Linked DNA regions of Homo sapiens. The protein of the gene in region 4 purifies or fractionates together with the protein of the main gene of each other region. This does not show direct contact. Each region holds a gene or a part of one and is shown on either strand. Other genes may lie near its edges. The genes, in order: PLBD1, IL36G, SERPINA12, ZNF154 and AMY1C.

Region 1 (6,804 bases), on a different chromosome or scaffold from region 4:
GCATACTGACTTTTACAAATTCTGCCTTCCATAAAAAGCCTCAAGGAGGGTATTTTGTCTGCATTTTTAAAATAAACAGTTCAGAGAAGTTAAATAGTCAAACAGGTCAAGGTCACACAATTCAGTGGTTGAGGACTGGGTGCAAAGGCAATATATCTAACTATAAATATCCATTTCTTTTTTTTTTTAGAAATGATGCAGTTTGGATTTAAATTAAATGGCTAAAACTGAAAGAGCCGGCTGGGTGTGGTGGCTCACACCTGTAATCCCAGCACTTTAAGAGGCCAAGGCAGGAGGAGCGCTTGAGCCCAGAAGTTTGAGACCAGGCTGTGCAACATAGCAAGACCCCCGTCTCTACAAAAAATTAAAAAATTTAGCCAGGTGTGGTGGTGCATGCCTGTAGCCCCAGCTACTCAGGAGGCCTGGTGGGAGGATCCTTTGATCCTGGGGGTTTGAAGCTGCCTTGAGCCTTGATCACGCCACGGCACTCCAGCCTGGGCGACAGAGCATGGCCTGTCTCAAAACACAAACACAAACAAAAAACTAAAAGAGCAGTGAACTCAAAGGATTTCCTGCCATGCCAGGTGGGTGGAGCTTCTATGTGGGAATAAAAGATGGAACCTATTTAAAGGACTTTTTTTTTGTTTGAGATGGCGTCTCACTCTGTCGCCCATGCTGGAGTGGAATGGCGTGATCTCAGCTCACTGCAACCTCTGCCTCCCAGGTTCAAGCGATTCTTGTGTCTCAGCCTCCCAAGTAGCTGGGACCACAGGCGTATGCCACCATGCCCTGCTAATTTTTGTATTTTTAGTAGAGACAGGGTTTCTCCATGCTGGCCAGGCTAATCTCGAACTCCTGAACTCAGGTGATCCGCCCTCCTCTGCCTGCCAAAGTACTGGGATTACAGGCATAAGCCACCTTGCCTGGCCTCAAAGGACTTTTAATTGAGGATCCCAGTAATGATGATCCCCATAAGGCTGAGGCTTCAAGCTTAATGATCTATAAGTGAGGCTTTCTGGGATGCATTTAGTGTGTTTCCCCAAGCGTGTGTGTGTTCCTACTTCTCATTATATACAGGTATGCTATCACCTCCCCCATACATGTATACATACCTCTTAAACTTAGATGTTCCCCAATTTTTCCTATGGAGCTTGCTAAAAATGCAGTGTCATCCATAGAAATTCATATTTCATTGATCTGGGCTGGGACATTTGTAACAAGCACCCTAGACCATCCTAGCATACTGAATCCATAGTCCATCCTGTTTGTGAGACTATGGCAGCCCTTGTGGTCTAAGCAGCAAAATCTTTGCTTAGCCTTTTTTGTTGTTGTTGTTTGTTTGTTTTTGTTTTTGTTTGAGATGGAGTGTCGCTCTGTCACCGAGGCTAGAGTGCAATGGCGCGATCTCGGCTCACTGCAGCCTCCGCCTCCTGGGTTCAAGCGAATCCCCTACCTCAGCCTCCTGAGTAACTGGGATTACAGGCGCGCGCCACCGTGCCCAGCTAATTTTTGTATTTTTAGTAGAGACGGGGTTTCACCATGTTGGTCAGGCTGGTCTCAAACTCCTGACCTTGTGATCCACCTGCCTCAGCCTCCCAAAGTGCTGGGATTACAGGCGTGAGCCACCGTGCCCGGCCTTGTTTTTTTTTGAGATGGAGTCTCGCTCTGTTGCCCAGGCTGGAGTGCAGTGGCCAATTCAACCTCTGCCTCCTGGGTTCAGGCAATTCTTGTGCCTCAGCCTCCCAAGTAGCTGGGACTACACCACGCCCGGCTAATTTTTTTTTTTTTGTATTTTTAGTAGAGATGGGGTTTCACCATGTTGGTCAGGCTGGTCTCAAACTCCTGACCTCAAATGATTCACCACCCACCTCGGTCTCCCAAAGTGCTGGGATTACAGGCATGAGCCAGCTTGGCCTTTTTAAATATTAAGTGCATGTACTTGAAAGTAGGTACACATGAAGATAAAAGAATAGGCTCCAGGAAAATTTAAGTCAAGTCTTCATAATCTATAAAATTGCCTATTTAATAAATATATGTTGTAAACATTTTTAATGTTCTGTAATTACTGTTATTAATGTCATGTTACCTCTTTGATCTAGGTACTTTGGTCATAAAGCTGAAGTATATAAAAACAATCTATATTTAGTACAGACCAAAATTCATGTCCTTTGCTTTTAAAAGGTAGAACCAAGAAAAAAAAAGCAATAGCAGAATACGGGCACGTATTCTAAAGAATTATAAATGGATTTTGCAGCACTTAATTTCTGTTTTTTTTTTAAGTACCTTTCTTTGATTCTTTGTCTCCTCATTGGTACCATCCCAGAACACTGATGTCTTCTGCCAGATCAGACCTGTCTTGATCATCTTCCCCACCTAAATCAGGATGTGTCCTCCCTTCTACCTTTCCAGAAATCCCACCTTAGTTTTCATACTTTTCTTGATTAACTGGTCATAAGATGATTTCCCTCAACTCCACCCTGTCTCAACATGCAACTCCCCATGAGTCAATCTTCATAATTGTTTCTAATGTGTTTGTTCCATGGTGTGTGTTGAGTAACTGTTGTTGCCATTTGCATGACTACATAGTGGTTACTGTTTATTTCTGCAGTTTGGTGTTTTTTTTAAGTCTTGAAATAGGATTTATTAACCGGAAGTGTTTCTTTTTATTTCTTAATTAAATTCAGTGAGAAGCTTATCATGAAATGTTATTCTTAGGCTGGCATTCATAAAACACTGGAGTGTTTCATTTTCTCCTGATCTCAATCTGCCTTCCAAAGCTGCTAATGACAGATGAGAGCAAGATTATAATTTTAGTTAGGGTGTGGTGGCTCATACCTGTAATCCCAGCACTTTGGGAGGCCAAGGCTGGAGGATCCCTTGAACTCTAAAGCTCGACACCAGCCTGGGCAACACAGGGAGACCCTGTCTCAAAAAAAAAAAAAATTTAAAAAGATTATAATTGTATGTAGTCAAAGAAATGTGTTTCTTTTCAAAGGCAATGTGTCAGAACTTTGTCCCATCTCTGGGCCTTTTCTTTATTATCTTAAACTCTAAACTATAGAATTAGCCTCCTCAACTATAGTTTTTGCAGGCCAGTTCACTCTCCTTGCTCTAGAACTCTGGATAGCCTATATATTTCCATCATCCTGTCTCTTTCATAAAGAATCTTGCCTTTAAATGAAAGACTACTCCTTAAACATTAGTACTTGTAATATTCAATCACCTACACATATTAAAGAACGCCTGCCCTCTTGTGTCCAGGGAGACTGCTACAGCAAGTATTGAATTAGCAAACTTGTCATTCCGGAAATACAGCATTCTACCCTACAGGGATTATCTACCAGGGAGCTTTCTCAAGGCTGCCAAGTATGGTTGTACAGTTTGAAAAATGATCCCAGCCCAAGACACGAATGCAATCCATTTTACACTCTGTCAAGCCATATATCCTTGCCCAGGTCATGTCTTTCTAGAGAGGTGACCCATTAAAATTTCATTCAAGAGTACTGTTAAACCTTGTACCACTTGGAATGTGCAACTTTCTCTAATTTACACAAAGCTCTCTATAGCTTAATGGCAGCCGTGTAGAGGCTCATTAAGAGTTAGTTGGGGCCGGGCACGGTGGCTCACGCCTGTAATCCCAGCACTTTGGGAGGCCGAGGCGGGCAGATCATGAGGTCAGGAGATCGAGACCATCCTGGCTAACATGGCGAAACCCCGTCTCTACTAAAAATGCAAAAAATTAGCAGGGCGTGGTGGCGGGCGCCTGTAGTCCCAGCTACTTGGGAGGCTGAGGCAGGAGAATGGCGTGAACCCAGGAGGTGGAATTTGCAGTGTGCCAAGATCACGCCACTGCACTCCAGCCTGGGCGACAGAGCGAGACTCCGTCTCAAAAAAAAAAAAAAAAACTAAGAGTTAGTTGGACAGTCCTCTCATCGTGTAACTTTCCTACTCAAGAAATTTCAAGAAATTAAAATCAGATTGTTAGAGCTGAATAGCTGAATGACATTAGTCCCAGGTTATCAGAAGAAGGAAATAAGGAAGAGAGAGGCAAAATAAGAACTGTCAAATTCATTAGAGGCAAGCAGGAAACTAAAATGCAGGTCTTCTGACTCCCAGTCCATGCTCTTACCTCCGGTTTCAGGTGACCCGTTTCTTTGACCCCACCTTACTTATTCCATACTAGGCTAGAATAGATGTGTAATAGCATGCATAGGGCTGGTGGGGTGATTTGAGGCAGTATGTGGACAAACATTTTTTGCACATTAGTAGAAATGTATTTGTTTTAATGTATTTCTTTGGGAAAAAACAAAAACATTAAGTCCATAGTTTCTGAGACATTATGATATATGACAAGGGTAAGTTAAGTTTGAAAAGTGAGTTAATTTGAAGAAAGATATTAAGTAGTGCATATGTTAATAGCTTGATTTAGCCATTGACAATGTATACATATATCAGAATATCATTTTGTATGCCAAAATATATACAATGTTTCCTTGTCAGATATCAAAATATCCTTTCTTTTGTATAACATAAATATATATAATTTTTACTTGTCAGTTAAAAAATAACAAAAATATTAACTAAATGATAGTTCAGATAGTACTCAGATATGGCAAAAATGATAAAAGTGGTAAAAAATCATGGTAGAAATTTGAGACCATCTCAGTCCATTCTGACTACTATGACAAAACACCTCAGACTAGGTAATTTATAAGCTATAGAAATGTTATTGCTCACAGTTCTGGAGGCTGGGAAGCCCAAGATGAAGGGACTGGAAGACTCAGTGTCTAATGAGGGTCTGTTTCTCGTAGACAGTGCCTTCTCTCTGTGACCTCACATAGTGGAAGGGGCTAGCTAGCTCCCTCGGGACTGTTTTGTAAGGGCCTTAAAACCCTTCAGCAGGATGCACCGAAGGAACTTACCACTCTGGCCCCTTCTAACCCTACCACTGAGGTCCTTTTCTGTTTAACACTGACAGTTGTTCCATTACTGTTACTGATGACAGTATATCCTCTCTTTTTATTACAGCTGTGCCTGATATTCTATCCTTTCCATACTCATCCCAGTATAAACCACAAAATAGGTCTTCAGAAAAGACTGTGGCTTCACTGATTTTCCTGTGTTGCCTCCAACATTTATAAAAAAGCATTGACCAAGAGTGTCAATGCCCTAGTTTCAAAACCATCTTTACTTTTCTAAATGTAGATGTTTTTCCATTTATAAAAATTATGTAGACTTAGCCGGGTGTGGTGGCCCACACCTGTAATCCCAGCACTTTAGAGGCTAAGGTGGGTGAATCACTTGAGGTCAGGAGTTTGAGACCAGCCTGGCCAACACGGTGAAACCCGGTCTCTACTAAAAATACAAAAATTAGCCAGGTGTGGTGGTGCACACCTGTAACCCCAGCTACTCAGGAGGCTGAGGCACAAGAATTGCTTGAACCCAGGAGGCAAGGTTGCAGTGAGCTGAGATCATGCCACCACACTGCAGCCTGGGTGACAGAGTCAGACTGTGTGTCAAAAAAAAAAAAAAAGTAGACTTATACAAAATTTGAAAAATACAGGAAAGTAGAAAAGAAGAAAAAAAGGCATTTATATTCTTACTAATGAACCCTGCTAATCCCCTCCCTAATTAAAAATTCTCCTGCAAAATCCTAGCAAGTCGGGATCTACATCTGTTTATCATTCTGGAAGCTTGCAATGTTCTGGATTTAACATATTTTTGTTATTTCAAATCACAAAATAAATTTTCAATGGAGAATCCAGGGGTGGAGTTCTTTTGGCACCTCTATAAGGGGCAGTTGGGTGACTACCACAGAGGTGAGCCAAAGCTGGGGGAGGCTACTGCAGATCAAGGATAGTAATAACTGATACACTTTGCAAAATGCATTGTGTATGTAAAGCTCTTTGTCAATAATGATGGTTCACTGTTCCATGTATACATATGCTGATGTGTATATTTGTCTTTCCTGTAGGGTTTTTGGAGTCTCTGGATGATTTTTACATTCTTAGCAGTGGATTGATATTGCTGCAGACCACAAACAGTGTGTTTAATAAAACCCTGCTAAAGCAGGTAATACCCGAGACTCTCCTGTCCTGGCAAAGAGTCCGTGTGGCCAATATGATGGCAGATAGTGGCAAGAGGTGGGCAGACATCTTTTCAAAATACAACTCTGGTAAGTGACCCTGCAGAATAACTGTTAGGCACAGACATATATTTTGATTTAGGCTTGTTAACCAGTAAAGTCATACCCATGCCCCGTCTTCATGTTTCCTGATATTTCAGGCACCTATAACAATCAATACATGGTTCTGGACCTGAAGAAAGTAAAGCTGAACCACAGTCTTGACAAAGGCACTCTGTACATTGTGGAGCAAATTCCTACATATGTAGAATATTCTGAACAAACTGATGTTCTACGGAAAGGTACTTTCTTCATGTCGTAAGTCTTAAAACCTGATGAGTATGTGTGTGTTCATATATGGTAGGGGAATGCACATTGTGTGAATGTGTGGTGGGGGAGGGTATGGTGGGGAAGACAGGATGGGGATGCTATATTACACCAGAATGACCAGGTTTAGCACAACATGTAAACCTACATCTCAAACTCTTATAGGACAATGTGCAGATTGGGACGCAAATCAGGCATTCATGACTCTATGATTTCTCATAGTTCTAATGTTACCTTTTCTCCTGTGTTCCTGGTTAAAGCTTTAAGTTCAATTCAGCAAATATTTTTGGAGTGCCACTGTGGCCCAGGGACTAGAAAAGCAAGGATACAGAATCCCTGACCTGGAAGGACTC
Region 2 (5,881 bases), on a different chromosome or scaffold from region 4:
TGAAATTTCAATCTTTACTCTTTTAATTCCCAAGCTCTCTGGTTTGTTCTTTTTTTATTTTTTAATGACTGTTTGTCCTCGTTCCACAAACTTCAGTTTAATTCAGTTTGATTCAACTCAATCCAATTCAATTAAGCGCATGTATGGGTACTTCCTGGCCTCTAGCACTGCGTAGATGCTTGAGATATAGCTGTGCACAGAATGGCAAAGAACCCTGACCATGTGGGGCTTGGATTCTAGTGAAAGGAGAGAAATGGCAAACAATAAATGTAATAGTAGGCAAATTTGTGCTATGTTAGAGGTCTTTACCTCTCCTAGAAAAATAAAAATGGTTACAGCAGGATAGATAGACCAGCAGTACCAGGAACACAGGCGGCGTCAGGCTGCAGTGGTGAATAGTGCAATAGGCATCATTGCCTAGGTGAGATGTTAGCAGGGAGTAGAAAGAGCTAGGGAAGTTAGTTAGCAGGTGTCTAGTGAGGGCACGTCCCAGGACCAGTGAGGACCGGTGTGCAGGAGTGAATTGAGGAATGAGTCCAGAGAGATAAAGGCAGACATGAAAGTCTTGTCCTTTGCAAGGACTCAGCCTTGCAATCTGAGTGAAATGGGAAATATTAGAATGTTTTGAACAGAGGAATGGCGTGAAGGGGCTTAGGTCTAAAAAGGATCTCTCTGGAGATCTTAGACTGTGGCGGGCAAAGGTGAAAGTCCTTCAGGAGACTTTGAGGTGGTCTAGGTGTGATTTGATGGGCCAGGAGATAGCAGCAGAGGTGGGGAGCAGTGAGTCAGATTCTGGTAGTATTTTAAGTGGAGGAAACAGGATTGTGAGTGTGATCAATAAAGTCAGGACTGAGAATGACATTTGCTACTTTGTCCTGTCAGCTAAGTCACCCTTATGTTGTGCGTTTGTTCTCAGATGGGGACTAAGAATTGACTGTTGCGTTTGGCAATGTGTGGGTCTTTGGGGACCTTGGCAGGAGCAGTGTTGGTGCTGTAGTGGGGGCAAAAGCCTGGATGGAGTAAGTTTAAAGGGAGGAATTACAAGAAAGGGATCAGAGACAGCAGATATGGACAGCGATTGCAGGAAGTTTTCTGCAAAGTGGAACTGGTGGCGGTGGTGGGTAAGCAAAGTAGTTATTTTGTTTAAGATGGTAGAAATGACAGCAAATATGCTGATGGGAATGACTAAGAAGAGCAAGCAAAATTGATGGAGCACAAGAGAGCAGGGAGAACGGCTAGAGGGATGTCCTTAAGTTGCAAGTGCAGATAGGACCTTTCACCCAGTCCTCCTCAAGCAGGGAGGTGCAGATATGGGTGCCATGTGCTGGGAGCCCATGTTATGGTGTGGTTTGTACAAGTTGTCTTCTAATTACTTCAATTTTCTCAGTGGGTAGGAAGTTGAAGGTGATGATGGAGGAGGTATGGGAGTTTCAAAGGAGGAAGCATTCTTCCATTTATTAAACAGCAAATCTCTGTTGAGTAGAATGCTGGGGGCTTTCCTCTGTGTTGAGGAATACAGTGATGAACAAGTCTAACAATCATTCTGGGATTGATGAATAAATACGCTAAGTTTAGATAGCAGTTGGTACTAATGAAGAAAATAACTCAGGAATATGATCGCAATGAGTAGGAGGGAGGATTCCAAACCGATTTTGGCTGGGATGGAATGTTCAGTAAAGTTCTCCCCAAGGAGGAGACCCAGGTGATGGGGAGCAGCTGGCCTTGGGAAGATGTGGGGCTGGTGTGAGGTGCAGGGAGAGTAAGTGCCAGGACCTTGGGTGGGAACAGCTTGGTGTCTTGGAAGGCAAAGAAGAAGACAGGTTGGTGGGGGCAGAATGAGCATGCAGGAGAGTGGTAAGAAGGCAGGGCAGCAGGTAGGCAGGAGCTGGGTGGCGTAGACCCTGTGGGCTTTGCCGAGGAGTTTCACTGTAATAACAATAGAAAATCATGCAAAAGGGTATCATAATCTTATTTATTTACTTCAGTTTAAAGTTCACTTACCTGCCTTATGGAGAATGATTATTAGAGAATAGAGTAGGTTCAAGGAGAACATTTAGAAGGTCACCCTAATTGTCCAGGTGAGAGAGTGATGGCCTGGATTGGGGTTGATGCCATGTGTGGAGTGCAAGAAGTGACTCGATTCAGGAAATATTTTGGTATTTTGGAAATAGAGTCCACAGGCCTTGCTCCTGGGTTAGATGTTAGGGGATCAAAAAAAGAAATGTCAATAATGACTCCTAGGTTTCTGGCCACCCAAAGAATCAGATTAACTGGAAGCCATTAATTGAGTAAAGGAATCCTGTGGGAGAAGAACTTCTCACTCAGGGTGGAATGTGGCTGAATTACAGATCATTTCTGTGTCTCTCTTGAGATCTTGAACACTTGCAATTTACTTAGAAATACTTATTTTACCTAAATATACAATGCATGTACATACAAATATATAGACATACAGAATATAGTTCCATATACAATATAGAAGGCATTTTTTGATTGCTCTATTTACCTTCTTCCTTTGATACAAATCCTTTGATTTGTTAGACCCTCTTGGGTCTTTTTCATTGGTATTTATCTTTCTCATATATGTGGCAATTAGTCAGAAATTCATACCCTAACCTGGCTGTCCTTTGTCACGCCGGTGGTTCTTGCAGGGTAGTGACTCTCACTGTTGTGGTATTGGTAAGGGAGGTAATTTCCAATTTCTTCCTCTTCCTAAGGGTCACCTCAGCCTCTTGTGTGAGAAGAGTTCTAACTTGTTGTTCAAGTGTGGCTGCTTGTTCATTAAACTCTCCCTTGTAAACTTCCTACACCATCTCTGGATTTGAGGGTGGGGGCTTGGAAGGTAAAATTTCATGTATGTTTACTCTGCTGCTCCTTCAAAATGTGTGTTTCTCTAGGCCTGCTCTAATAGATGGATAAGGTTTTCTGGAACTTTGGAACATTTATTGAATTATTATGAATAACCTTGAATATCTCAAACAGCTTCTGTTTCTCCTAATGGGTACTTGTTCTGACATTTCAGGAGCAGAAGATCATGGATCTGTATGGCCAACCCGAGCCCGTGAAACCCTTCCTTTTCTACCGTGCCAAGACTGGTAGGACCTCCACCCTTGAGTCTGTGGCCTTCCCGGACTGGTTCATTGCCTCCTCCAAGAGAGACCAGCCCATCATTCTGACTTCAGAACTTGGGAAGTCATACAACACTGCCTTTGAATTAAATATAAATGACTGAACTCAGCCTAGAGGTGGCAGCTTGGTCTTTGTCTTAAAGTTTCTGGTTCCCAATGTGTTTTCGTCTACATTTTCTTAGTGTCATTTTCACGCTGGTGCTGAGACAGGGGCAAGGCTGCTGTTATCATCTCATTTTATAATGAAGAAGAAGCAATTACTTCATAGCAACTGAAGAACAGGATGTGGCCTCAGAAGCAGGAGAGCTGGGTGGTATAAGGCTGTCCTCTCAAGCTGGTGCTGTGTAGGCCACAAGGCATCTGCATGAGTGACTTTAAGACTCAAAGACCAAACACTGAGCTTTCTTCTAGGGGTGGGTATGAAGATGCTTCAGAGCTCATGCGCGTTACCCACGATGGCATGACTAGCACAGAGCTGATCTCTGTTTCTGTTTTGCTTTATTCCCTCTTGGGATGATATCATCCAGTCTTTATATGTTGCCAATATACCTCATTGTGTGTAATAGAACCTTCTTAGCATTAAGACCTTGTAAACAAAAATAATTCTTGTGTTAAGTTAAATCATTTTTGTCCTAATTGTAATGTGTAATCTTAAAGTTAAATAAACTTTGTGTATTTATATAATAATAAAGCTAAAACTGATATAAAATAAAGAAAGAGTAAACTGAAATTAGCAAGAGTAGTTGAATAAAGCCATTGCAGTGGGTAAACCTGGGACTGGGGCTTAGCTGGGGACAAAAGGGCCTTCCTTGGTGGATAGTGATGGGGTGGGGGTGAGAAATTCAGTATGTAACAGGGCTCTGCTGTTTGGCTCCTTTCTTTATGGTCGAATAGCCTTGGTTTTTCCCTGCTTCCTCTAGTCTTTTCCTTTTAGACCATCTCACCATTCACATACTTTTTTCAAAAACTTCAGTAAAGATGTCTTTTTTTTCTTCTTGGAAGAGAAAGCCTTGCTTTCCCAACAGCCACCTTTAGAAGATATATTCTGACGAAATTAAATAACTGACTGATATAGTTTGCATGTTTGTCCTCGTCCAAATCTCATGTTGAAATGTAATCCCCAGTGTTGAAGGTGGAGCCTGGTGGGAGGTGTTTTGGTCATGGGGGTGGATCACTTGTGGCTTGATGCTGTCCTCACCATAGTGAGTGGGTTCTCACAAGATCTGGTTGTTTAAAAGTGTGTGGCACCTCCACCCTCACTCTCTCTGTTGCTCCTGCTTTTGCCATGTGATGTACCTGCTCCCCCTTCACCCTCTGCCATGATTGGAAGCTTCCTGAGGCCTCCCTAGACGCCAAACAGATACCAATACCAAGCTTCCTGTAAAGCCTGCAGAACAGAACTGTGAGCTAATTAAACCTCTTTTCTTAATAAATTACCCAGTCTTGGCTATTTCTTTACAACCATGAAAGAACGACCTAACACACTCACTGTGGGTATAATTGTAGAAATATATACCTCAGATCTGATTCTGTATATAATAGATTTCTTTATTTTTACTCTAACACTGAAAATGCAGAACATTCTGTTTGCTTAAGTACATTCTTCAAAATAGCATAGCAACTTATTTTTTTTTCTACTTTTGGGCAATCAGACTGCATCCACTACTAACAATTACAATAAGCAATCAGCAAGCATGGATTTAATGTGATACCTCTTTATTCTTTAACTTTTTCTTTTTGGGGGGTTATTTTTAATTAAACATTTAAAAATAATTTTTAAAGCTCAATTTTTACATATCTTTTTAAATTGACAGATAACAGTGTATGTTTTTATTGGGTACCACATGATGTTTTGAAGTACATATACATTTGTGGAATGGTTAAATCTAGCTAATTAACAAATGTACTGCCTCACATGGTTATCATTTTTTGTGGTGAGAGCACGTAACATCCACTCTCTACATTTTTTGAGAGAATATATCATCATTTACTATAGTCTCCTTGCTGTAAAATAGGTCTCTTGAAAGTTATTCCTCCTACATAACTGTAATTATGTAGCCCTTGGCTAACATCCCCCCATCCCTCCTCCTGGCTAACTACACTAGCCTCTGGTAACTACCATTCTACTTTCTACCTCTATGAGATCTACTTTTTTTAAAATTTCACATATGAGTGAGATCATGTGGTATTTGTCTTTCTGTGCCTGGCTTGTTTCATTTAGCATAATGTTCTCCAGGTTCATCCATGTCGTCACAACTGGTGGGATTTCAATCCCTTTTTATGGCTAAATAGTATTCCATTATGTGTATGTACCACATTTTCTTTATCTACTCATCTGTTGATGGACACTTAGGTTGACTCAATATCTTGGCTATTGTGAATGGTGCTACAATAAACATGGGAGTGCAGATATCTCTTTGACATAAAGATTTGAATTCCTTTGCATAGTGTGATTGCTGGATCATATGGTAGTTCTATTTTTAATTTTCTGAGCTTCTATAATGTTTTTCAGAGTGGCTGCACTAATTTAAATGCCCCCCAAGGGTGTTTAAGAGCTTCCTTTTCTCCACAACATTGACAGCACTTATCTTTTGTCTTTTTGATAATGGCCATTCTAACTAGGGGAAAGTGATACGCCATTGTGATTTTGACTTGCATTTCTCTGATTAGGAATATTGAGCATTTTTTCATATATCTATTGGTCTTTCTTTTTGTGAAATGTCTATTCAGGTATTTTGCCTGTTTTTCAAACA
Region 3 (3,500 bases), on a different chromosome or scaffold from region 4:
TGACACCACAGTTGACAACATCATTCTACTCACAACTCACAGCTCTCTTTTACAGCCCGTGTTTGTCCTTGCAGTTTCCTTTGCTCCTCACCCTTTCATACAGACTGCCACTCACCCTTGAAGACTTGGCTCAAATGCTATCTCCTCTATGAAGTCCTCCCTGACCACCGCCCTCCAGTAAGACTCCATCTACTGCGCCCTCACAGTCTTGATGAATCTCCCTCAAAGAGCCAGGCACTTCACTCTATTCCTATGATTTGTTCCCCAGTCTAATTCTCACCATGATATAAGTTTATTATAGAGCCCAGAAGAGGACTTGGCCATGAGGTAAGAGCTCAGACAGCAGAAATAAGAGGGAAGACAAGAGAAGGAAAAAGCTGCGAGGGCTAGGCACCCACTTTACCTGCGTGACAGTAATGTTTTCCATCTGGAGAAAGTGTCCACCTGCAATCCCTTCTCCAAGTGCTTCAGCTTGCCCTCATCAGGAAGGATGAAGATGGCTGTGATATTTTTCTGGTAGGGTATTTCCAGGATGGTGCAAGAGAGCTTATCGTCATAGCCAACTTGGTATATGCCACTACGGAACATCATGGGCACCTTGACTGAACTGTTTTTCTCCAGAAAGAAATCTTCCTCTTTAGTTACATTTGGATCAAACTCATGTTTCCACCTGGCTTAGATTGAAGAAAGACAAACAGACATGTTATCCCAAGGGAAAAAAGGTGACTAAATCCAACTAACCAGTAGTCTCTCTCCACACAGATTCAGGGTGAAAGGGGATATTCCGGGATATCAGGGAAGTCCTTGCCCTCATGCCATGTCCTGGAGATTTCTGATGATATGGGCTCAGGTGCAATTATTAGTTCCCAAAGAAGCCAGGACTAGACTGCCAAATTAAGAGGGGAAAAGAAGACTACCATAAGCTCAGGTTCCCCTAAGCCTGAGAAAGCCCACTGATTATGTCCTAACAGAGGGGACTGCATTACAATTAATGAGGGCTAATTGAGTCTGATGTGAGTAGACTCTTCTTTAGCCATCAATCTGCCTGTGGATTTTGAGAACCCTCAATTTTTTATATTTAGTACCATGTTCCTGACACTCCAGCAGTGATTTTGTCTGGACTGATGGGTGTTGGCCTCTGATTCTCACCTATTTTGGCCAACCTGTTTGTGTACATGTGTTCTGTGTGGTGTTGGGGGATAAAGTTGAAATTGGAAACATTCTTCCATCTTTTTTTTCTGTCTCTCTCCATCAGATCTGGGAAATATATAAAGTCTGATAAGGAGAATTTATATAATACATACATAAGGAGACCCACCAAGTGATCACCATCACCATAATCAACACAATCACCATCTCAGGTGTCTGCTTAAAGTGCTGGAAAGCACACAGTGCTAGGGCCAGGAGAAATGTGTTCCAGTCCTGACTGTCAATGATGGGCTTTGTAACTTGGAGTAAGTCAGTTAATCTCACTCTGATTTTTTTTTCTCATCTAAGTGATGGGAACAAAATGTCATTCCAACCTCTATAACCAATGTTGTGTTAGGATAATCACCAATAATGAAAATGATAGACTTCATAAAGCTCATTTCACATACATTTTCACTTTAAATCTCAATAACTGTATGAGTTATGTATCATGGTAACCATTTTACAGATAGGAAAAGTGAGGTTTTGAGAGATAAATCACATATGAATTCAAGGTCACAGAGTAAACAAGTGGCCAACCCAGGTTTTTAACCCAAGTCTAGTGGTCATCCTATTCTTTCCACACCAACATGCCAAAAGCCTTACCTCGAAAGAAAATATAATTTGCAAGAAGCATCACAGTGCCGGGGTCTATATTCTCGATCAGGTTGTTAATTTTCCCATGGGTTTTTTGACTGATAAAGTCATTGATCTGCTTCTGAGCCATTTCCAAATTCTGAAAGTTGGTAAGGATGGTTTCGGCACTGTAAAAGTTCTTGGCATCTTCCAAAAACTTACGCTGTGGCTGCAGCCTCTGGTCAATGAACAGCGTGTTCCCAATGCTCAGTTTGAGGTCCTGGGTCTTCTGGGTCAGCTCGTGGATGATGTAATGGAAGCCCTCATGAAGATCTTTTTCTGGCATCTTTCTGAAGTTGAACCCCTGCTTGATCTCGTCCAGGGTGCTGTCCTGGGCACCCAGGCACAGCATGGAGAAAGCTGTAGAGATGCTCAAGGGGGATAGGAAGATGTTCCTGCCAGGGTTGTAAAAGGCCAGCTTCTTGAGCAGCTTAAAGCCTAAGTCCATGTTCTGCCTTGCAAGCTCCTTGGCTGCCATCCTTTGCTTCCATCCTTGGACCTCGCTCAAAGCTTTATAATTCCTTGGTGAGAAGCTCGGCTTTAGAAGACCTTTCACCGTGAGGAGAACAGCCAGAAAAATGGCCAGGCCTAGTGTGGGGTTCATTTTCCTTGAAGAATATCCTGTTGAGTAGTAGACCTGAGGTCAGCAGAAAAAAAGAACATGATAACCCCATTGCCTACATGTTACCCAGAGGAAGACCAGATGAAAGAAGAAATACAGTGACTATTATGTGTTGTACATAGCAGTTTATGAGTGCTTTGACCCCTTTATAGCATTTAAACTTTATAATCACCCTGGGGACTAGAAATGACTTCTACACTTTGTAAATAGGAGGACTGAATGTAGAAGACAACTCTTGTTTTTGTACCCTCTTTATGGAAACAGTGTCTCAATTCCTTTGAGGAACAGCTCTCCTTCCCTCCATTGGACCACAGTGAGGATACCCCGTAGTGTAGGCATATGGCCCAGACCTACCATCATAATACTTCATTCCTTTGCCACACTGGCTGGTTAAAGATGAGAGTGTGGACCAAAATCAGACCTCTCAGTGTCTTTCTAAGGGAATGCAAAACCCCCTAAGCTTTGGGGCAGCTAGCTTTGTGAAGTAGCCCTGGAGCTGAATGTGGCCATGGTTTCCACATGTAGAAGGAGAGGAGAGTGATAGAGGGAGGTGGAAAGACAGAAATGGACTGACACATCTGATGACATCTTTGGAGACCCTGGACTAACCTTTAACTCAGTTTGCTACCCACTTCCATGTTTCCAAGTTATGAAAGCCAATAAATTTCCCTTTTAGAGTTGGCTGGTTTGAGGTAAATTTTTCCCCTTCAGCCAAAAGAATTATGACTAATTTACAGAGATCAAGCTCTTTGTTTAAGCTCATATGTTCTCTAGGTGGTGGATACTCATTCCAGGAGGACTTAGATCTCCAGGAAACCTTCTTCCCTACACCCTTCCCAGGGAGGGAAGAGGATGGCACCATGGGAGAGGAACAGCCAGGTCTGCCTGGCTCTGGACTGCTGCTCCTTTCATCCACCTCTCAGCTTTGACATCTTCCAACGGCCACTGTGAGCTTCTGGGAGACAAGACTTTTAGCTACGTTTTCCCTTAATCTCCAGCCCTAATTCTGCAGAGAGATGCTAAAAGCATGTTGGCCTAAAAAGCTTATTGATTT
Region 4 (7,236 bases):
CACGGTACAGGCATCTTTGAGCCTCATCAAGGAGACCCCATTCCTCCCAGGAGAAGTGTACGGCCACATCTTCAAAGGTCACAGTGCCCTGCCACAATGGGAACAGATGAAACCACCAAGAGCCCCTATCCCAAGGACCCACAATGCATACCCCCACATCTTTACCCCATGCCCATTCTCTTCCCAAGCTCCCCAACTGAGAGGAGAAACCAGCACATGGATAAATAGGCATCTAAGCTGGGGGCCTGGCATGGAAGGATCCATACTATCCCATCATGAAATCCCCCTGAAATGTCCAAGGTCATCTAAGTCTCAATACCAGGGCCCTGCAGCTGTCACTTACTCCCTTTCCAGATGCACATCATTCTTCAGAATACACATCCCTCCTATCTCCAGACACCACAGCCCCAAGCCCAGGGCTGCCACCTCACTGCCCACACCATAGGCATCTCCCTGCTCTTACCTCCCATGTCACTGTTTTAATCTCTTCCTCTTTACCCCATTAGCGAAGGCAGGATTGCCACACTAGGGTTATGGATATGGACAAACACACAATACCTGACACTAGAAAGACGATACAGCAGTTGGGTATGGTGGCTCATGCCTGTAATCCCAGCACTTTGGGAGGCCAAGACGGGTGGATCACGAGGTCAGGAGTTCAAGACCAGCCTGACCAATATGGCGAAACCCCATCTCTACTAAAAATACAAAAATTAGCCGGGCGTGGTGAAGCACACCTGTAATCCCAGCTACTCAGGAGGCTGAGGCAGGAGAATTGCTTGAACCCAGGAGGCGGAGGTTGCAGTGAGCCAAGATTGCGAAACTGCACTCCAGTCTGGGCGACAGAGCGAGACTCCGTCTCAAAAAAAAAAAAAAAAGAAAGATGATATAGCAGTTTATTAATCATATGTACATAGAACCTGGGAGATGAGGACAACATGTACCACACAGGGTCACATGGGGGTCTAGTCCAGAAAAAAAGTGAATAACCAAAAACTGTGGGATGCAAGCACTTTGAGAACAAAAGGATCAACTGCCCCCTGGTTCCCACAATGGGCTTGTTTGGAAAACTCCATGACCTGGTAGGGAGCTGAAATCTGCTACAAAGTGATAGGCAGAAATTGTGCCTGGTCTCCTTGATTAAAAGGGTTGTCTGTTTGGGAGAAGAGTAGGGAGGGAAACTTGTACTCAGGCCATTTGATGCCACCCTGATTTCACCAGATGTCATACTGGGCCTTAATTTTAGACTTTACACCATAACTTAGCACACAGCGTCCAGAGTATGCTCGACAGATTCAAACGGATCTAATACTACCCTAGATCTCCCAGGGCATCCACTAGTGGTAGCAGCCCCAAATCCTATGAGGGCTCCCTGGCTGGCTCCATTCTTTGCCTCAGATTTAGGCCACACAGAACCACATGTGCATCTCAGATACCCATGGCCCTATTCCACTTCCGTGCTGCACTTGCTAGCCCCTCAGCAGTAACAACCTTCCTCTGTCCACTTAACACTCAAAGACTAGCTCCACTGATCACCTACCCCAGGCCAAGTGACTGTCACAGATGACCACATTGGCACCTGGCCTTATCCTCCAGGTTGAATAAACACCCTAGGCCCCATCAAAGTCATCAAAAAATCCTGGTGATTCCACAGAGTGCTGAATAAGCACAAAGGAAAAAAAGGACAGCCATTTGCCTCAAATACACCTATGCCTCTGCATCCACCTTATATCCACTCTTCCCTTGAAAGTGTATGCCACCTGCCCAACTATCCTCTCCAAACACCCTACCTCCATAGCCACTAACCTCCCTTACCTCTGTTTAGAAAGCCCAAGAATATCACCCACTTATCCAACCAAAAGGCTTGGTCCTTAGCCCCCATTCTGCCCTTCCTGGCCAAATAACCTGTACCACCATGCCTAAAGATTAACCCTTGTAGGCCGGATGCGGTGGCTTACGCCTGTAATCCCAGAACTCTGGGTGGCTGAGGCGGGTGGATCACCTGAGGTTGGGAGTTCAAGACTAGCCTGACCAACATGGAGAAACCCTGTCTCTACTAAATAAATACAAAATTAGCCGGGCGTGGTGGCGCATGCCTGTAATCCCAGCTACTCGGGAGGCTGAGGCAGGAGAATTGCTTGAAGCCGGGAGGCGGAGGTTGTGGTGAGCCAAGCTCGCGCCATTGCACTCTGGCCTGGGCAACAAGAGAGACACTCCATCTCAAAAAAAAAAAAAAAAAATAGAACAACCCTTCTAAATGTAATCCACAGCTCACTCACCTTAGTCCACACAATGACCACCACATTTTGGATGTCTCCATTCTGAAGCACTCCCCAGATTTCCAGACCTGGGTGTTCAGCCACCTACTTAATGCCTACTTAATGTCTCTGAAACATCTCAAACTCTTACATGACCAAATAAAGCTCCTGTTGTCTCCAGTGAATATTACTGTTAATACCAACTTCTCCATCTCAGTTGAAGAACCATGGGGTCATCGCTGAATCCTGTTTCACTCCCTCGCTGTCTACATCAGAAAATTTAGTTGCTCCCTTTAAAAATTTGCATCCAGAATGCAACACATCTCCTAATCAATGACTCTGGTCCATTACCCTGGACTGGCTGTAGCTTCCACTCTGATCTTCTTTCCTCTTCCCTCAACCCCACAGTCTGCTCTCCACGCTAACGGGATGGACCCTGTTAGGACTTTGGTAAGATCACCTCCCTCTTGTAACCCAAATCTCTCATTACCTCCAGAATAGGTACCCAACTTCTCAGGCAGCCACTGCAGTCCTGACTCCTTCCCCCTGCTCTTTGTTCCCAGCTAAAAGGAAACAGATCTATGGTTTCCTCAAAAATCTCAGCTTAGTTTTACTAAGCACTTGCGCCTCCTGATACCAGTGCCAGAGATAACCTTTCACAAGTTTCCACTGGCTGACAAAAATGGGAACACCTCAGTATAACCCCTGTAACCTCTGGCATGGACTTAAGAGCCCTGGGCTTGGAATTTCTCCAGGGCACCAGACCCAGGATTGGGGTAACAGCACTTAAGAATACTAGGAAACCACAATCCCAAGAACATGGGGGTAGAGGCTACTGAGGGACCGAACACTCTCCACTTCCCTATGTGAGTTCCATACGCCCTTCTACAACTGGGAGAACCAGGGAAAGAGGAATGCATCCCTGGTGAGGCTAGATGAGCTCAAGCCTCCCTGTAGCCCTGCCTGGCCCTGAACTCAGGCTGGCTGTTTTACTTTCTGGTCTCAGTGCTGTCACCTCTTGCCAACTGTAGGGCAATGAAAAAAAGATGTAGCCTCCCACTATCTCAATGTCCTCATCGCCCCATCGCTGCTCTTCCTGTGAACAGTCTTTGGAAAAGTTTTTAAACCCTAACATAGGGCGGGCACGGTGGCTCACGCCTGTAATCCCAGCACTTTGGGAGGCCGAGGCAGGAGGATCACTTGTCAGGAGTTCCAGACCAGTCTGGCCAAAATGGTGAAATCCCGTCTCTACTAAAAATACAAAAAATTAGCCGGACGTTGTAATCCCAGCTGCAGGCTTGTAATCCCAGCTGCTGGGGAGGCTGAGGCAGGAGAATCGCTTGAACCCGGGAGTCGGAGGTTGCAGTGACCCGAGATCGCGTCATTGCACTCCAGCCTGGGCGATAAGAGCGAAACTCCGTCTCAAAGAAAAAAAAACTAACATAAATGGCGTCCCTCCTTTGTTCAGAACTCTCCGTGGCTTCTAGCATCCTCACAATGACAGTACAACCCTAGGAGTAACTCCGCCTCATATTCTTCGTTCCCTGCAGAAAACAGCTTTCCGAATTCTCCTGGCTCAGTCGCGCCTCAACCTTTGCACGCGCCGGTTCCTCCGCCTGTCACGCTCTCCCACACCTCGTCACACGCAGTGTCAAAAAAAGGGCCCCACCCACGAACGCCTCAGTGTCCCCGACCCTGGGCAGCGGGGACTCGAGCAGGCGCCCCTCACTGATGGCTTTAGAACGTGGGTGGGGGAAGGTGTGTGAGGACGGGAAGACGCCGCACTCACCTGAGTTGGCGTCCTCAGAGTGGCCGCTGCCATCAGACTCTGCGGGTAGAGCTGGGCCGGGAGCGACGGGCGACATTGGTAGGGACCCGGGGACAGCGGTCCCTATCCCAGGCCTGACGTGGGTCCCCCAGGGCGGCGTCGCCAAGGCTTAGACGCTTTCGTGCAGGAGGGACGACGACTCCCCTCACGCCTTCGTGGCCCCAACTCGGCGCTCTGCTATCTCTGATCCGGTGAACACACCTCAGAGAAGCTAAAATGGCCGCCACGAAGAGGCCCCCCCAAAAGTCCCGTCCTTTCTTTTTGTGACTCTCAAGGAAAGTCGGTTTTCTGAGCTCTTACTGGCTTAGTAGCGTGGCGTTCAACGCAGAGCATTCTAGGTAATGTAGTTTTCATAGATCCCGAGGTGGGTGCCGGGGACCCTTTGCACCAACCTCTTGGAGTAAAAGCGAAGCTCCAGGGCGCTGGGCGATGAGAAATGGCTTATCCAAGTCCTAGGGCAGTGGAGGGACTTCGCCCTTTCTTAAATGGGTCGTAATCAGACAGCATATTAGAGGTGCCATCTGCAACTGATCACCCAAGTGTTTGGGGAATATTATTTCAAACTTCATAAAGTTCAGCAGGCTCCCAGAGGCTAAAATTATTATCAGACGCTCCCTAAGGCTGCCAATCCAAATATGTACATCATTCCATAGAGCCATTCAGACACGAAATATATCCACTAGTAGGGAAGCTAATAAACATTACCATATAAGTTTATTCCTTTTTTTTTTTTTTTAAGACAAAGTTTCCCTCTGTCCCCCAGGCTGGAGTGCAGCGGCGCCATCTGGGATCACTGCAACCTCCGCCTCCCGGGTTAATCGATTCTCGTGCCTCAACCTTCCAAGTAGCTGGGACTATAGGCGCGCGCCACCACGCCAGGCTAATTTTTTGTATTTTCAGTAGAGACAGGGTTTCACTATGGTGGTCCCAAATTCCTGGCCCCAGGTGATCTGCCCGCCTCGGCCTCTCAAAGTGCTGGGATTACAGGCGTAAGCCACCGTACCCAGCCTCTATCATATTACATTTCAAATGTATGCACTCCGAAGCATTGAAGTCAGTCTGTGCACTTTTGGTCAGGGACAGGTGAAAAACTACTTCAGATAGTGGCATGATAGTGCTTCTAGAAGATAGAAGAGAAATGTTAGATCACCTTGAAACAGTAGTACAAAGGTAGAATTCTGTCTGATTCCAACAGAAAACATCTTTTGCCTGCATAGTCAATTATTGTGTCCAATTACTGTGTCCAGTCAATAACTGTGTCCAATTCACTGAGCAACGCTTTTATCCATTTCATAATTCTTACTTGATATCTGAGATATATTCCTTCTAGAAGTCTAACATCAATCTCAAAAAACAATGAAAGAAATGCTACTTTGATAAGAGACAAAGGGGAGAGGTGGGACTTCTTAATCAGAAAGCCGGTGAAATGCACTTGAAGGAAGTGAGAAATGAGCCATGTGGGTATTTTTAGAATAAATTCCAGGCAGAAGAAGCAGGTTACTAGAGTGCCTGGATGGATGGAGACTTCACAGGGCATTTCAGCATTGGAGGGCCTAGGGCTCCAACCCAGCAGGCCTTCATCTGCTTTGCTGGCTGCAGAGACACTCAGGGTATATAGGTGAGAAATCTCTTCTTTTTTTTTTTTCTTTTTTTTTGAGATGGAGTTTCACTCTTATTGCCCAGGCTGGAGTGCAATGACGCAGTCTTGTTTCACTGCAACCTCTCCACCTCCTGGGTTCAAGCGATTATCTTGCCTCAGCCTCCCAAGTAGCTGGGACTACAGGCGCACGCCATGACACCCAGCTAATTTTTGTATTTTTAGAAGAGACGGGGTTTCACCATGTTGGCCAGGCTGGTCTCGAACCACTGACCTCAGGTGATCCACGCATCTCGGCTTCCCAAAGTGCTGGGATTACAGGCATGAGCCACCGAGCCTGGCCGAGAAATCTCTGCTGCTTTGTTATAAAGTTTTGGAGCCGCAAAATAAATAGCACTCGAATATAAAATTTTCTTTTTAATTCTCAGCAAGGTAATGTACTTTTTTTTTTTTTTTTTTTTTTGAGATGGAATCTTGCTCTGTCACCCAGGTTGGAGTGCAGTGGCGCGATCTCGGCTCACTGCAAGCTCCGCCTCCCAGGTTCACGCCATTCTCCTGCCTCAGCCTCCCGAGTAGCTGGGACTACAGTTGCCCACCACCATGCCTAGCTAATTTTTTGTATTTTTAGTAGAGACAGGGTTTCACCATCTTGGCCAGGCTAGTCTTGAACTCCTGACCTCATGATCCACCCACCTCGGCCTCTCGAGGTGCTGGAATTACAGGCGTGAGCCACTGCGTCCGGCCCCAACATTTATTTTAATGTTCAGATTCTCCCAGATGTTTGGACAGTGGGAACTCATTAAAGCTGTGCTCTCTGCTTTTTTATGTCAATATTATTGATAATTTCATTACTTTCTAATCCAAAAATATTTTCAGGCTCATGTTGTACCCTTGCTATCCCAGCCCCAGAATCAGCCTCTTTTTCAAGGAGCTCTGGTTTTCTTCAATAGATAACAATGCTTGTAAATATTAGTAAGCATTAGCTGTGCTCTTTTCTACTGGTAAATCATTGATTATTAGGTCCTCTTGGAGAGAAAGCAGATACATACACATGCACGCACACATTTTTTTTTTTTTTTTTGAGACAGAGTCTTGCTCTGTCGCCCAGGCTGGAGTGCAGTGGCACGATCTCGGCTCACTGCAAGCTCAGCCTCCGAGGTTCACGCCATTCTCCTGCCTCAGGCTCCTGAGTAGCTGGGACTACGGGCGCCTGCCACCACGCCCGGCTAATTTTTTGTATATTTTTAGTAGAGACAGAGTTTCACCGTGTTAGCCAGGATGGTCTCGATCTCCTGACCTCGTGATCCGCCCGCCTCGGCTTCCCAAAGTGCTGGGATTACAGGCGTGAGCCACCGTGCCCGGCCACTTGCACACATTTCTATACAAATTTATTTCTACATCTATATTTACATCTGCAAAGACTTGAAAAATTCAGATATTTGAAATGACTCATGGGACTGAAAGCACTCTCTCATAAGGCTTTTATTTAAATATAAAGCATACAGTACAGCTAGAGAAAGACAGAACAGGCATCAGGGCTCAGAAAGATCTGG
Region 5 (6,452 bases), on a different chromosome or scaffold from region 4:
ATCTAGTTTGACATTCTGTATAATGTGATGTGGATATTGATCCTTCTGGAGTGCCTCTAAATGATAATGTGCTGAAACCTCTGAAAGGAAATTTTTTAATAACAAACATTTTATATTTGTAATATGAATATAAGTATTCCATACATGTATATACAAATATGGACTATATATATGTAGATTACACACGTGTGTTTGTTTATGAGGTGTGTGTGTATATATATGTGAGTGTGTGTTTGTGTGTGTGTGTGTATATATATATATCTTACAGAGTAACCATCTAATTAGAGAAAGAATTTAATCTTCAGATGCCATGCCTTACAGAAAGAGATGCACAGTAGAGTTACTCTCAAACTATTGTGAAATGATACATCAACGTATATCTTATGTTTCAAAAATAGGAACTGGGGAGAAGGTTGGGGTTTCATGCCTTCTGACAGAGCGCTTGTCTTTGTGGATAACCATGACAATCAACGAGGACATGGCGCTGGAGGAGCCTCTATACTTACCTTCTGGGATGCTAGGTAGAAAACCAAGTTCTCTATTTTTTAACACCTCTTTTAATGATGGTATGAATATTGTGATATTCTATGATAATATAATTATGTAACTTTCAGGCTGTACAAAATGGCAGTTGGATTTATGCTTGCTCATCCTTATGGATTTACACGAGTAATGTCAAGCTACCGTTGGCCAAGATATTTTGAAAATGGAAAAGTAAGTTTTGGAGTTGTTCAAAATATCCTTTTCTCAAGAAAAAAGAGGCAATCTTCTCCTAATTTAATATGACAACTATTAAGTGTTTATTTATTCAACAAATATTTAATTATTGTAAACCTGATACAGGGTTGTGATTTAGTAATGCAGGTTATATTAAAGGAATAAACTTTATATTCTCCATTGAAAAAGAATAGCAAGCTTTTTCAGAGATATGACAAACATCCCCCTAGCCCGCAGGGAAAATAAAAATAAAAATTAAAAAAACCACTTAAAAATAAGAGCTAGGCACAGGGATTAAAATATATACTTCGTACCTTCCTCAGGTTTAATTGGAAGAATATAGATGCCAACCCTTGTAGAGAACTTAAAACATCATCTGCCCGTAGTGAGAACAATATAAATGTCTTTTAAATACTGTTAAAAAGTTATATGGTATAGAAACAAATGATCCAGTTCAGCTGAGTTAAATAGGGAAAGTATACTATAAGAGGAAGGAAATTGTATGTACTAAAGGATAGAAATTTATAGAGAGTATTCCAAGAAAGGTAAGAATGAGAAAAATATTTGGGAGTATGGTAAAGACATCACTCTGCTGAGTAGTTTCAAAAAGGAACAGAGAAATAAGAGTGTAAAGATATTTGGAAAGCTAGTAGAAGGTTTTCTTTTAAACTAAAGGGTTGAGAAACAGCATCAGAGACTTCAGAACTAAAGCAGAAATTCCTCCTTCCTATGAGTCACACAGATATCTAGCTAGCTTTTTTTAGATTCCTTTCAGTTTGAGAAGTCCGCTACTATGTATAACAACTGATTCTATTGTTAAACAGCTTTAATATTTAGAAGGTGTACTTTTATATTGAGACAACTTCTTATAATTTCTACTAATTGGTCTTATTTCTGTTGTTAGGAGTCAGAGAGTTCTTTTATTTTTTCTATTACTATAACATTCCCACTTTGACAGGACTGCTGCATGCTATAAACTCTTAAGTTTTGTTCACTTTTCACCATATGACGTGATTTTAAGGTGAACACTGATAAACTTCCTAGGGTTACTCTGTGTTTTTTAATGAAGATTTCTTAAAGTGCCAATCAGAAAAGCATAATACTAAAAATATGGTCAATTTATAAAAAAAAATGTTCAGATGTAGTATTTTGTACATTTATCTAAAAAGAAGCATGACGGCCTCCAATATTTATTTAGCATATGTCATGTTCAAGGCATTTTCACATATATTACTTAATTTTTATAGCAAAAGAACTCATTATTCTCATTTTACAAATGAGGAAACTGAGACACAGAGAAATTATTTATATTGATTAAATTTTCTCAGCTACTAGTAATAGAGCCTATGTTTTAATCCTGGTGTTTCTAGTACTAATGCCCTTCCCATTTCAATGCCATTGCATGGCTTACAGTGATGTTAAGAAGCCCTTGCAGGCCAGGTGCAGTGGCTCACACCTATAATCCCAGCACTGTGTGCGGCCAGCTGAGAAGGTCAGCTGACCTGAGGAGTTCAAGACCTATCTGGGCAAGCTAGCAAGACCTTGCCTCTACTGAAAATTAAAAAAAAAAAAAAAATTAGCTGGGTGCGGTGGTGCACACCAACAGTCTTAGCTACTTGGGAGGCTGAGATGGGAGGTTCGCTTGAGCCTCGGAGATCAAGGCTGCAGTGAGCTACGATCATGCCACTGTACTCCAGCCTGGGTGACAGAGCAAAGAAGTCTTTGCAGTGCCTTGGAATGAAAAGGAGAGGATAACAATTTGCTACCTTTGTTTGAAATATGGCAAAAGAGAACCAGAGGATAGAGAGATGATGAAGACCCAGTAAAGGGCTATAAAAATCAATGAAGGCATTGGATTCTAGATAAAGTCACTGAATGCAGAGACACAAGTAACAGGATAGGTTGGGTTTGGTTTAAAGGAGAAGGAAGAGATAAATATATATATGCTAAAATTTGGCTTTTCCTCCTGTAATTAAGGATGTTAATGATTGGGTTGGGCCACCAAATGATAATGGAGTAACTAAAGAAGTTACTATTAATCCAGACACTACTTGTGGCAATGACTGGGTCTGTGAACATCGATGGCGCCAAATAAGGTGAGAATATGTATTTAGACATGTCCTCTAATAGTAAATTTCCGTAGCACTTTATTTAAAACAGTTGAAGTTTAAGAATATCAACGTTTTATATGGTATTGTGTTTTTAGGAACATGGTTAATTTCCGCAATGTAGTGGATGGCCAGCCTTTTACAAACTGGTATGATAATGGGAGCAACCAAGTGGCTTTTGGGAGAGGAAACAGAGGATTCATTGTTTTCAACAATGATGACTGGTAAGTAAATATCAATTAAAAATAATATTTTGTACCAGTATGTTCTTGGTTTATTCTTTTTTTTTTCTGTTCATTGACATTTATCATATCTGAAAAATCATGTAGTCAGTGGAGCGAGAAGACAATAGAGATCAAAATTGGGTAGAAGCAAAAGGATGATGGCTGTTACTCCTTCGTTCTCCTGTTTTCATAAGGGCTTTCTGTTGTAAGCAGAATCCTTTCTGTGCACCCTTGCAATATCTTATGCATATATAGAATGCACATTCATATGCTTACCTACACATGCCACAAAATACACAAAGTAATTAATAGAAGGATTGTGAAATCATTAAAAGAACGTTTCTTATAGTCCTGCTCTTTTAATCATGGAAAAATGCTGCCTCAGTACTAAAATATCTTTATTTCTCTTTTTCTCAATGACAGCTCTACCTAGTTTTTTGGTATACTTTCTTCACTTCTCTGTCTCCTTGTGACAAATAACATTTTTAAAGCATATGGATAAATAATATGTATCTTGTGGTTAATGATTTGCTTCAGGAGACTTGAGTTTTAGTTCTGAAACTTCTCATTATTGGCCTTTCATCTGTGATTTTTGTATCCTTTGGCTGTAGTATAAATGATTCCCGAAACTGTAGCTGAGAAGACCTCCTTGCAAACAGTTGAATTGTCTCTGTCCAAGGCCAACTGACACTCATACTTAGCTCACTCTAGTATAAATTATACTTCACTTATGAAAAATAAATAAATACAAAAATATATAAGTCAAGTTGATCTCTTTCCTGCCAAAAAAATGCGTGTCTATTTCCTTAGTTTCCTTCTTTTGTGGATGAAAATACCAAAAAAATCTTTTGTGAAAAAGCTTTATATTTCAAACTATCACTTCCTCATACAAATGCTAGATTGTTTTTATGTACACCCTAAATTCTTTTTGACCTCATGTAGAATAAAAGAAGGTTAAAAAAATAATACCCTTTAAATTTTTAAAGTAATTGGCATTAAGTTCAGTTGAGAAAAAATTTGATTTTACCAAGGTAGCACTTTATCAAAATGTGACCGCTCCCGCCAATCTTCGGTGATATTCTTCAACTTTGATTTTTCGGTTATATTTTCACTACTGAAAAGGAAATTGGTAGGTTTTCTGTAAGGTTACTTTTGGTCCTAGAAAGCTGTTTACACCTACTAGGGAGGCATATGGGTTTTCTTCTTAATGAGACTTCACTGCTTAGGGTTCTAAAACATAAAGTTATGCTGTTTATTTGTGTTAGTCTGTATTCTTGATTTCATTGTTTTGAAGTTAAATCTGAAATTTTATTTTACAGGACATTTTCTTTAACTTTGCAAACTGGTCTTCCTGCTGGCACATACTGTGATGTCATTTCTGGAGATAAAATTAATGGCAACTGCACAGGCATTAAAATCTACGTTTCTGATGATGGCAAAGCTCATTTTTCTATTAGTAACTCTGCTGAAGATCCATTTATTGCAATTCATGCTGAATCTAAATTGTAAAATTTAAAATTAAATGCAAATCCGCAAAGCAATAGCTAAGTGTGTTTCTTTTCTTACATATACAGTAATAGTTACATATCATTAATTTTAAATAAAAGCTCTAATTAGTAAAAAGAGGTTTAAGACACTTGATAGTATGAAATACAATTCCAGGTTACACATAAGTTATTTATTTTGGCAAAAGGATGACTCAAAAATTTTAAAACTAGGCAACAATCTTTACTCATTAAGAGGTAAGACTTAGCTTTCCAAACAGTTTGTCTCCTGTCTACTCTTTTCTCTCCTTGGCATTCTACCAACAAGGCAAACCAAATATTTCATTATTCTTCTCTATTACATGAAAAATCTGTACAAGGGAAGGAAAGCCAAATTTTACCCTTACATAGGTTTCAAAAGAATCCTTTTTCCATAGGCAACATTTACATTTTTATGCCTTTTTATAATCTTTTACCACAAACACATTTAAGTGTTCCTACACACCTTGCATGTAAATTTATTTTTAGTTGTCTTATTTACATATTTTTATGGTCAATCTTAGCAATTTTTAACTTTAATGTAAACCTGGTAAGTTGTTTTAATTATGTACTAGATGCAGATAAAGTCTGACTTTTTCCATTCTAGTTAGGGCATGGTTAATTTCATATGTCCCCAGGCCTTACCAAGTTGTAAAGTAGGCAGCCTACAACCTTGAAATATTTAGCAAGCCTTTTATCTAATTTATGTGATTTAAACCTGCTATTTACATATTGATGATATTTGCATTTTCCAATTTGATCTTTAAAACAGTTTTTATTTCTTAGAGTTTAAAAACACATAAACTAAAAGGCATTACGGTTTTAACTTTCCTCTAAAATATTTGATTTAAGTGCTTATTTTTATTTAAGGCAATCAATTGGTCCTCGTTACAGACATCACACACAACACATATATTGCTACACAGACAAACAGAAGAAGATCCAGTAGCTCTAAGATTTCTTCTCGTCCCATTTCCTAATTGCATTACTGGCTTCCCAGTAGAGCCCTTTAAGAACAGGGATAGCAAACCACGAAGTTTCTAGGGCCTAATCAACTTGTATAGCTGTAAGACAAAAACAGATTTTGAGCAGGATTGATCAGCCTCTAGATTCTGGGATTCCATGAGGAAAACAGAGGTTTCTCCCAAAATGGAATCCATCATGCATTTTCTGTTTTTCCCAAAACGTTTCAGGCCACCAGAAGTTATCTTGTGTGCATTAAGAGTGGAAAGACAGAGTGGAGAACAGTAATTCAGTCAATGGAAAAGTTCTTTTCAAGAAAAACACGATCCAAGAAGACAAAAACATGCAGGTCTTTTAAATATACCTATAACTTGAATATCCACTTTTAATCAAGCTCAGCACCCTTTCAGAAAATCCTTTGACATCTTCTGTTTCCTGACTTTAGCTAAATCAAGCAGGTAATATTTCTGGCTTTTGAATTTTACCAAAGGTAACATCACAGGGGAAACTAAAAACTCTCCGTTAGGTTATAAGTTCACCGTTAGTATACAAGATATTTTATAAGTGGTGGTAAGCAGCTTTTACCAGATCTAGAACCTTTAAAGTCAGTTGAGAGAAAGGAAGATTTCAGAAAGGCAGTTAGAGTTTTTCATGGCGGAGCACGAGATGATTAAACGTCACACAGTTGTTAACTGGAAAGTATTCATCACCCAGGCTGGGATTGAACCTGGGTCACCATTGTAAAAAGGCAACGGCTGAAAAGTGGTACTACCACATGGTTACAGGTTATGCTTAAGGACATAAAACAAGTCGGAGACATGCAGCAAAGTTTGTTACTGACCAGTTTATGAGGGTGTCTTGAACAGTGAGCTCAAGGAGTCTCAGGCCTGGATTCCATTCCAAGGTACCCTCTGTCT

The links.
Region 1: the proteins of ZNF154 (region 4) and PLBD1 purify together in Homo sapiens (affinity purification with mass spectrometry; one large-scale study listed by BioGRID and IntAct). This does not show direct contact.
Region 2: the proteins of ZNF154 (region 4) and IL36G purify together in Homo sapiens (affinity purification with mass spectrometry; one large-scale study listed by BioGRID and IntAct). This does not show direct contact.
Region 3: the proteins of ZNF154 (region 4) and SERPINA12 purify together in Homo sapiens (affinity purification with mass spectrometry; one large-scale study listed by BioGRID and IntAct). This does not show direct contact.
Region 5: the proteins of ZNF154 (region 4) and AMY1C purify together in Homo sapiens (affinity purification with mass spectrometry, with the first as the bait; one large-scale study listed by BioGRID). This does not show direct contact.

The regions. Positions count from the first base shown.
Region 1 is NC_000012.12:14,510,882-14,517,685, reverse strand, and holds part of PLBD1 (phospholipase B-like 1 precursor), read left to right. Parts: intron 1-5,974; coding exon 5,975-6,175; intron 6,176-6,285; coding exon 6,286-6,426; intron 6,427-6,804. UniProt on the Homo sapiens protein: In view of the small size of the putative binding pocket, it has been proposed that it may act as an amidase or a peptidase.
Region 2 is NC_000002.12:112,981,818-112,987,698, forward strand, and holds the end of IL36G (interleukin-36 gamma), read left to right. Parts: intron 1-3,022; coding exon 3,023-3,232; 3' UTR 3,233-3,841; downstream 3,842-5,881. UniProt on the Homo sapiens protein: Cytokine that binds to and signals through the IL1RL2/IL-36R receptor which in turn activates NF-kappa-B and MAPK signaling pathways in target cells.
Region 3 is NC_000014.9:94,495,970-94,499,469, forward strand, and holds part of SERPINA12 (serpin A12 precursor), read right to left. Parts: intron 2,462-3,500; 5' UTR 2,429-2,461; coding exon 1,795-2,428; intron 675-1,794; coding exon 404-674; intron 1-403. UniProt on the Homo sapiens protein: Adipokine that modulates insulin action by specifically inhibiting its target protease KLK7 in white adipose tissues.
Region 4 is NC_000019.10:57,704,892-57,712,127, forward strand, and holds the start of ZNF154 (zinc finger protein 154), read right to left. Parts: upstream 4,314-7,236; 5' UTR 4,081-4,313; coding exon 4,048-4,080; exon of another isoform or gene 233-4,047; coding exon of another isoform or gene 89-232; coding exon 1-88. UniProt on the Homo sapiens protein: May be involved in transcriptional regulation.
Region 5 is NC_000001.11:103,754,101-103,760,552, forward strand, and holds the end of AMY1C (alpha-amylase 1C precursor), read left to right. Parts: intron 1-398; coding exon 399-521; intron 522-614; coding exon 615-714; intron 715-2,694; coding exon 2,695-2,813; intron 2,814-2,923; coding exon 2,924-3,049; intron 3,050-4,368; coding exon 4,369-4,558; 3' UTR 4,559-4,592; downstream 4,593-6,452. UniProt on the Homo sapiens protein: Calcium-binding enzyme that initiates starch digestion in the oral cavity.